Linked DNA regions of Homo sapiens. The protein of the gene in region 2 interacts with the protein of the main gene of each other region in a pairwise test. Each region holds a gene or a part of one and is shown on either strand. Other genes may lie near its edges.

Region 1 (5,192 bases), on a different chromosome or scaffold from region 2:
GTTAAGCATCTCTTTATGCACAAAAACAGACATAATCAACAGGATCATGTTGTAAGTGTTGTTTTCCTTTGGGGAAATTACTGACAAATGAAACCTTTTTGGGCAAGGGGTTGCTCTTCTCTTCTCTTTCCCACTCTGCCCATACCTGTCACCCCAAATCCTTAGTAACAGGCTGGGGAATTATATTTCATAATGTTTTCATGGTCATGTAATCTTACATAAATATGTATGGAGTGGGGTCGTTCATGATTTTTTTTTAAATGAGGTATATTGTATGTACTTCCCTGCATCCTGTTTTTATCACTTAAAGATGTATCACTTAGAGATAGATTAAATACAGACTAACACCCTTAATTTCTTTTACCAAGTTAGTTCCTTATTTTGTTATTGCCTGTTGTGGCTTGGGTTTTGACCAGTAGACACAGTGCTGCCATTAATATCATTCTGTATATCCTCAGGGAGATTTTAGTCCTAAGCGGAGTAGGTTCCCAGGACAAGGAATTGTTCTCAGCAGTATCTTTTCTCCTGCTTATCTCATTTATTATTACAAATTCAACCATTTTATTGTTCTATCCATCGCTTTTAAATTGGGGTAGAAGTTACAGTGAAAAACACAAATCTTAAGTGTGCAGTTCATTATAAGTTTTGACCAATGTATACATTCATTTTGACAAATGTATACACTCATGTTATACTCCAAACAATTTCTATACTCCAAACAAAATATTGTTTGTTGTACTCCAAACAATATTTCTGTCACCCTAAAAAGTTCTTTAGTGTCTCTTTTCAGGCAGTCTCTACTCTCTCATAGGCAACCACTGTTCCTGTTTCTTTCACCATGGGTTAGTTTTGCATGTCCTTGAACTTCATGTAGATGGAGTCACACGGTTTGAAAGTTTTTGTGTCTGACTTATTTTGCCCAGTGTAATGTTGTTGAAATTCATCCATATTTTTATATTGTATCTGTTGTTTGTTCCTTTTTTCAGGACACTATTTCATTTTATAAAAATACCAGAATTTTTTTGTTTTTTTGTTCTCTTGTTGATGGACAGTTAGGTTGTTTCCAGTTTGGGGGTATTATGAACAAAGCTGCTGTGAGCATTATTGTTTTGGGGAGGCAGTTTTCATTTCTCTTGAGTGAATACCTAGGCACGGAGCTGCTGGATGATGCGGTGCTAAAGAGTTTTCCAAAGTGGTTGGGGAAGTGAGTATTTTTAATTTAAAATGGATAGTCAGTTCCTTCATTAAAGGGCTTAAACTCACCAGTGACTGGTGAATTTCTACCAGTGGCTCTCCACGTCTCCACCAGCAAAGAGAGTTTCTCTCTTTTTAAAGTTGTGCCAGTCTGATGAAGCCAGAGTGAGAGCTTGCTGTCACTCTAATTTGTAGTTCCCTGAGTGCTTAAGATGGCATCATCATTTTTTAAAAAGCTCTCCAGAAAATTCAAATGTACAGGCAGGATTAAGAATGCTGCTATTGAAAGGTGACAGGGGGAAGACAAAGATCTGACCTCTTCAGGCAGTAGCACCAAGAATGCAGGGTGGATGTTCATTATTTAGGATCAGGGAGACTTCTACAAATTTGTTTGTGGATAGGCTAAAGTGACTGATGAGAAGTGAGAATAAGTTTTTAGAAATATTGGGCAGAGATGGGATTAAGAATGGAGGTGAAGGTATTAGATTCTGCAAGGATCAGGAATAGGGGAGAAGGAACGCACAGTGCACAGTTGCCTGGAATCATTTTGCACAGTGCCTGAGGTTTCTTTGTATCCAGTGGGAAAATTAATTGGTATTCGTGATCATTTGTATAATGAGTAAACTTTCAAATAGGGTTGTTTAAAGGGACTGAATTTCACCCATCTGGAAAATTTTGCCATCCAGACTGGCTCACTCCAGAGGTGCCAGGTAGCTGAAGTTTCTGAAGAGCTGGACATCTATGTTATATGGTGTGTGCAGCCCACATAGGCCTGGTTTCCCACTTAACTAAACGCTTTGTATCAAGAATGGACTTGTTTGGGAAGGGAATATTTTGTAAGATGATGCCTAGTATTGTCTGAGAGAGATAGAGCTTTCAGGTTAAGATCTTGAGGCTTGCACCAAGTGCAAAAAATGAAAATCAGAGTGCATTGTGTTGGGGAAAAAAAAGTGAGTTTGGTTCCTTTTGGGGAAGAGTGGGACTCATGTACACGAGCAGAATGGAGGCTGATACTTCATCTCATTTAGCTGCTTGTTTGTTAGTACTAAACAGGATTAGTATGAAAACAGGAAGTTCTCAGCTGGAGACTTTAAAGGAGAAAGGAGGAATATTAAAATTCCCTTTGTTTTGTGAAAGCCACTGAAATTTAGGTTTTGGTTGTTACCATGCTATACCCTAGCCCATCCTGACTGATAGAGGCATTGCCTGACACAGAACCCTGCCATCATCTCATTCTACAGGATTGGTGCTCCATGGTAGAGCCAGGGTATTTTTTCTTAATAATTAAAGTATTTTTTTTTACCTTTCCTCCGTTAAGGTGGACTTAGGTGAAGGCAAGATTTGCTTCTGTTGTGAAGAATTTCAACCAGCCAAGTGCACAGACAAAGAAAATGCCTTGAAACTCTTTCCGGTTCAGCCCTGTAGTGCTGTTCACCTTCTACTTAAGGTACCTCAAACAGATTCCCACCCGCACGGTAAATACACCACGGAGCCCCCAAAGAAGGCAAACTTACTTGAAATATTCCTGTTCTATTACCTCCCTCAAACAATTAAGCTGCTGAAAGCGCATGTGAGTGACCCCAGAGACAGAATTGAATGCAGAAAGAACCACAGATTATTGTGTGTGTTAAATTATGTATGGACAGCTTTCTTTGTGTTGAAGAACTGTAAGATAGTAAAAAATGGAAAGGAGCCTGACTATATATATGTATATGTATACACATACACACATATTTCCACATATAAACATATGCATACGTACATATGTATACCTACACACACATATACGGTGTAGCTTTTAGCAAAACCTTTAAGTCGCACACTCGTGTGTCATTGTTCTGATGCTCATTTGTTTGCTTACATGGGTCATATGGGCCACTGAGTACTACCAGTCTGCAACACGTAGACTAAGGAGAGAGATTGGCCAGAAAATATGGGGGAATTGAAGCACCTTAGCTCTTGTTTAATAAGCAACAACTATAATAAGCCAAAGGTATTAAACAAACAGATGATCCCAGTTGAAGAGAAATACAAAATTAGCCTTCATCAGGGAATTGGATAAAAATTGTGCCCTGACTTAAGGAACATTAGCTCAGTGAGTGACAAAATCAACTGGTGAACCCTGAGGTATGGCTTTTTGAGAGTCCACTTCTGCCGGTTTTCTTTAGATATTTGTTTTGGGTTTCATTTTGGTGGGGAGGAAGAATCTCCAAGGAAAGAGAGAACTGTTCCAAGCTACCAGCTCTGGGTTGTGTGGGATGTGGAAATGGCCTGCTTTCCATGGCTTCTGCATTTTTGGTAGCTGAGTCACCCCCAAACTTTCTGAGCCAGGACTTAGCTTGGGGAAAGCCCCACTCAAGGAGCCAGGACTGTACCAACAGAAGCGTTTGGAATGGCCTTTGCTATTTTGAGATGTGTGTTTAGTGGAGAGAAGTCCTATTTACACTCTGGCTGGGCCAGCTCCTTCAGTGTCCTCGTCGTGTGCATGGGGCAGCACAGCCAATTGCTCTTGAAATAGAATTAGTGGCCACAAATTAAGCAGTGTGCTGTGCTGGTGGGAGGCTGTGGGAGGGAGGAGGCTGGGAATTGCTATCCCTGGGGAAATCAGCCTCAGAAGAGAAGCTCACTGCTCTCCTGGAAGGAATGTTTCTCGACAGTATTCTGATGCTTGCAAAAAGAAATACTATCATACCACGTTGTTCTGTGACAGAAAGCTTCTAAGATAAGTTTTTGGAATTAAGAAGTACACATTATTGCATGAGGGTCATAATAATAGCCAGCATTTATTTGGGCACTTTCCACGAGCCAAACACCATCTAAGTCCTTTACATGCATCCTCTCCTGAGAATTGTCTTATGGAGGCAGCGTTATTATTATTTTAAAGATTTTCTACATTGTATTCTGGTGATGTTTGTTGAAGTACTTAGTGGTGCCATTGTTTCCTTGCCCCAGAAAGTCCTCTTTGCCCTGTGTGCCTTGAATGCCCTGACCACCACCGTCTGCTTGGTGGCCGCTGCCCTCCGCTACCTCCAGATATTCGCAACCAGGAGATCCTGCATCGTAAGTCTATGCAAGGGCATCATGGCCACGTTTCCGCTGAGCCAGCCCATGGACCCCTTCGTGTCATCCACTGCCTCTCTCCCCGTGCCTTTGTAATGAAGGCTGTTGACTAACTGAGCTGCTGTTTAATCAGGATGAATCCCAGATTTCTGCTGAAGAAGCGGAGGATCATGGACGCATCCCCGACCCTGATGATTTTGTGCCGCCTGTGCCTCCCCCTTCCTATTTTGCCACGTTTTACTCGTGCACACCCCGGATGAACCGCAGGTATCGTTCCTGAGTTCCCCTGCAGTCTGAGTGGGATGCTGTGGGTTCTGAAGACTGAAGTGTCTCCAGAACTCACCACATGAGATCTCACTTTTCTTTGAAAAAGAAAAAGAAAAATTTTTCCTGACTTGAGGAACGTTAGCCCAATGAGTGACAAAATCAGCTAGTGAACCCTGTGGTATGGCTTTTAGAGAGTCCACCTCTGCCAGCCTTCTTTAGAAAAATGAAAAACAATTATGCTGTTTTTCAGGGGTTTCTATTCTCTCTGTCTCTCTCTCTCTGTTTTCTGTCTTACTTTCTCTTTTTGTCTGATAAAACAGATGAATCCAAAGAAAAGTTAAACTTTGGCCTGAAGATAGACATTTTCAATTTCAATTAGCTTTCTAAGGGAAACTGACACCCAGGGAGATAACAGCTGTAATTTGACATGATTGAGAGTCGCTGTTGCCTTGGAAACACTCCCAGTTAGGCCAAATCGATGTTTCATTGTAATACCATCAGCAGGTCTCAACAATCAAGAAATTCTTCCTAGCCATTAAAAAGAGATTAATTATTAATTGTCTCTCCCTGGTCTAGAAAAAATAGATACCATACTTATTTTCCTTTTCAAATTTCAAACTTAAAATTTTGACCTTCTTAAATATCAAGGATTTTTATTGGTACAGTGAAAT
Region 2 (4,183 bases):
TCCCAGAGGATACTTCTGTCTCTTCCCTGTTCTTTCATCCCTTTGTGGTTGGAACCTCAGGGTTGAATCAGTTGGGCTGGTAATCTGGCCCTGATGGAACCAAGGGGCCCTGGTAGGGGGGACACGGGTACTGACTCTATCTGTCACCTTGTCCTGCCCCAACCACTCCCTCTTCTGTGGCACAGGGTCTCTTTGTAGTGTAGCCTCTCTTCATTGCCCCTCAGTCATGGCTGAGCACAGGCACTTAGGATCAGCTGTGGGCAGAATTTGGATTTCCAGCAAATAGCCACACTTTGAGCCTAGCCATTGGCACCTGGCATGGGTGTGAGACCTGAAAAAGGGCTTTGGTCTCGGGGAGTCAGCTACCCAGCCCTTTGCTGCTCCTGCCAGTGAAACAGCTCTTCCTCTCTGTGTGGGTTTTTTTTTTTTTTCTATGTGTGGGTCTTGCTATGTTTTTTTCCCTACGTGTGGGTCTTGCTATGTTGCCCAGGTTGGTCTCTTAACTCCTGGGCTCAAGCAGTCGTCCTGCCTTGGCCTCCCAAAGTGCTGGAATTACAGATATGAGCCACCATGCCTGGGCTTTTTTCTTTTTCTTTTTTTTGTTGACAGCCTTCCTTCTGGCCTCTACTGCTCCTCGTTGGCCGAGGACAGGCATCAGACACCTGCCCAGGGGAAGAGAAGAATATGGAGGATCTTCTGGGTTATTGGGACTTCTACCCATGAGGGGCTGAACCCCAGGTGGGAGTTTCAGGAGAGGAAAACCCTGGGGATTGTCTGGGTACCAGCACAGTCTCTCTTCCCTAGGACCACACGATTTGCCTCATTCCCTGACTACCTGGTCATCCAGATCAAGAAGTTCACCTTCGGCTTAGACTGGGTGCCCAAGAAACTGGGTATGGCTGCTGGAATGAGGGAGGTTACACAGAAAATGCTAGAAAAAGAAGGGGCTTTAACACATATAAACTAGTGTTTCTCAAAGTTTCCTCTGAAAGAGGAAAAAAAATCACCTTCAATGTTTCAAAATTTATCTAGTTTGAAAGCACTAACTAAAAATATTAAAAGACTTCTTTGATTGTTATAGGTATGATTTACAACCAAAAGTGATTTTTGTAGTTTTTTAAAATAATTGGTAAAATGTTTTCATTTTGATAATCTTGAAACAATTAATTCTCGTGAGTCTTACAGGTCCCTGACTGTCATTTGAGAACTCGTGATGTACCTTCATTTTCTAGATAAGGAAGTTGAGACTCACAGGAATATAAAATCATTCTGTCTCACAAGTTCTAGGCCCCCTGCCCTGTCCATAGATTATTTATGGTAGATCTAGGACCAGCATCCTGGCCTCCCAACTCCCAGGCTTAGTATTATTTGTCTTATACTGGGACCCCTAAGATGGGTGCCGTGCTTTTAGCAGCTCCTCTTTACAGAGCAGTTCTGACATAGGGGGCAGGGGATTGAGGTTCCCGAATCACTTTCCAGGTAGGCCTCCGGGAGCTGCTGAGGTGACCCTTTTCCCACAGATGTGTCCATCGAGATGCCAGAGGAGCTCGACATCTCCCAGTTGAGGGGCACAGGGCTGCAGCCCGGAGAGGAGGAGCTGCCAGACATTGCCCCACCCCTGGTCACTCCGGATGAGCCCAAAGGTAGCCTTGGTTTCTATGGCAACGAAGACGAAGACTCCTTCTGCTCCCCTCACTTCTCCTCTCCGACATGTTAGTGACTCTTCTTCCTGCCTGTCTCTCTCCCGTGCTGATGGGGGCCTCTCTGCCTTGCATCCCCTGCCCCTGTCCTTTGTGTTTCTCCTGTCCTCCCTTTCAAATTTCCTCTGCCCTCTTTGATTGACATGGGGCCTCCCCAGCGCACTCCTAGCCACCTTCTGGGTGTGGATGGCAGCAGTGCCAGCTAGTGGCCTCTCTGCCCTTGTTACCTCCCTGGTTTGGGTAGGGTGGGGGTATCATGCTCCAGAAACAGGGCCCATTCTGTGAGAATGGGCAGGGACCCACATTACAATTGTGTGGTCATTTTGGTTTTGGGATAAGGTGCCAATCCATGGGAGAAAAATGCATGGAATGGGTGATTGGAAGAGGGCTGGGTCCTGGGGGAGGGAGGAGGAGCAAACAGTGGCCCAATCAGTCGGTCCGTGTACCCACAATTCCCATTACAGCGCCCATGCTGGATGAATCAGTCATCATCCAGCTGGTGGAGATGGGATTCCCTATGGACGCCTGCCGCAAAGCTGTCTACTACACGGGCAACAGCGGGGCTGAGGCCGCCATGAACTGGGTCATGTCACACATGGATGATCCAGGTAGGCTGGGGTGGGGAGCAGGGTGGGGCAGGGCCTCCATCCTCCCCCAAACACATCAACCCCTTCACATCCACAGATTTTGCAAACCCCCTCATCCTGCCTGGCTCTAGTGGGCCGGGCTCCACAAGCGCAGCAGCCGACCCCCCTCCTGAGGACTGTGTGACCACCATTGTCTCCATGGGCTTCTCCCGGGACCAGGCCTTGAAAGCGCTGCGGGCCACGGTATGGGCTGCCCCAGCTAAGGACATGGGGCCAGTGGGGAAGAAGGGGGTGGGAATGAGGGGCCATCCTTCTTGAGCAAGACCAAAGACAACAGGTGTGGTCTGGCCGAGGTTGGGCACCACTCTTTTGTGGCTGCGATGAAGGAGCTGAAGCCTGCGTTCACTGCTGGGTTTTTTGCCCCAGAACTTGTTAAAAATGTAATGCTTCTGTTTGGCCGGGCGCGGTGGCTCACGCCTGTAATCCCAGCACTTTGGGAGGGTGAGGTGGGCGGATCACGCGGTCAGCAGATCAAGACCATCCTGGCTAACACGGTGAAACCCCGTCTCTACGAAAAATACAAAAAATTAACCAAGCGTGGTGGTGGGCGTCTGTAGTCCCAGCTACTTGGGAGGCTGAGGCAGGAGAAAGGCGTGAACCCGGGAGGCGGAGCTTGCAGTGAGCCGAGATCGCGCCACTGCACTCCAGCCTGGGCGACAGAGCAAGACTCCGTCTCAAGAAAAAAAGTAATGCTTCCTTCCTCTCCAAGAACAATAGTTTAGAACGGGCTGTGGACTGGATCTTCAGTCACATTGACGACCTGGATGCTGAAGCTGCCATGGACATCTCAGAGGGCCGCTCAGCTGCCGACTCCATCTCTGAGTCTGTGCCAGTGGGACCTAAAGTCCGGGATGGTCCTGGAAGTGAGTATCCCCAGGAAGCAGGACAGGCCTGGTGGAATCTGGTCAGTCTACTACACCAGATCCCTCATTCAGGCAGCTCTGCCCTCCTCAGGAGTCAGGGGCTTCTTTCCACCTCAACGTGGCATCTGAGGGTGGGGTTCTCTGACATGGAGACAGGCTCTGGCCCAGTACCTGCCTCACATTCCCTGAAACTCCTGTCCTGAGTCTGAGCTGTTGTCTGGATCTTTGGGCCATCACTCAAGCATTCCTCTTCTGTTTCCTTCTCTGACCCCCTCTCTCCTTTCCTAGAGTATCAGCTCTTTGCCTTCATTAGTCACATGGGCACCTCTACCATGTGTGGTCACTACGTCTGCCACATCAAGAAAGAAGGCAGGTGAGTGCTGGCCACATGCGTTTTGAATGGAGAATGGTGGTGGGAATGAGGAGGGCCATTTGGAAGTCCTTGGGATAGCTATGGGAGAAGGTGAAGGGACTGCCTGATGGGGACATAAAGTGCCAGAGAGTGACAGAAGGTCTTGCAGCAGTGATTGGCCCAAGGGTTGGATCTGGCCACCAGCTTTTTTTTTAAATAGAGATGGGATCTCACTATGTTGCCCAGGCTGGTCTTGAACTCCTGAGCTCAAGTGATCCTTCTGCCTCGGCCTCCCAAAGTGCTAGGATTACAGGCATGAGCTACCGTGCCTGGCCAGGCCCCCTGCCTTTGTAAATAAATTTTCACTGGAACCTGGACACACTTGTTTATGTGTTGTTTGTGCCTGTTTTCACGCTGCGGCAGGAAAGTTGAGTCGTTGTGTCAGAGACCAGAGAGAGAGCCTGCAGAACCTCAAATACTATCTGGCCCTTGCCAGAAAAAGTTTACCAACCCCCTGCCTCCCTGGAATGGGTGGAGGGTGGTTGTAAAGGTACTGGAGGATCTGAAGACATAATAGGGTCCGTGACCCTTGTGAGGTTGTGAAGCTCCCTTAAGGCACAT

The links.
Region 1: the proteins of USP5 (region 2) and ENTREP1 interact in a two-hybrid assay, tested with the Homo sapiens proteins (one large-scale study listed by IntAct).

What each region holds. Positions count from the first base shown.
Region 1 is NC_000009.12:69,373,224-69,378,415, forward strand, and holds part of ENTREP1 (endosomal transmembrane epsin interactor 1), read left to right. Parts: intron 1-2,512; coding exon 2,513-2,641; intron 2,642-4,146; coding exon 4,147-4,254; intron 4,255-4,387; coding exon 4,388-4,521; intron 4,522-5,192. UniProt on the Homo sapiens protein: Functions as an activator of the E3 ubiquitin protein ligase ITCH in the ubiquitination of the CXCL12-activated CXCR4 receptor. Thereby, triggers CXCR4 endocytosis and desensitization, negatively regulating the CXCL12/CXCR4 signaling pathway.
Region 2 is NC_000012.12:6,861,666-6,865,848, forward strand, and holds part of USP5 (ubiquitin carboxyl-terminal hydrolase 5), read left to right. Parts: intron 1-804; coding exon 805-893; intron 894-1,479; exon of another isoform or gene 1,480-1,520; coding exon 1,521-1,712; intron 1,713-2,164; coding exon 2,165-2,308; intron 2,309-2,384; coding exon 2,385-2,530; intron 2,531-3,056; coding exon 3,057-3,210; intron 3,211-3,498; coding exon 3,499-3,583; intron 3,584-4,183. UniProt on the Homo sapiens protein: Deubiquitinating enzyme that participates in a wide range of cellular processes by specifically cleaving isopeptide bonds between ubiquitin and substrate proteins or ubiquitin itself.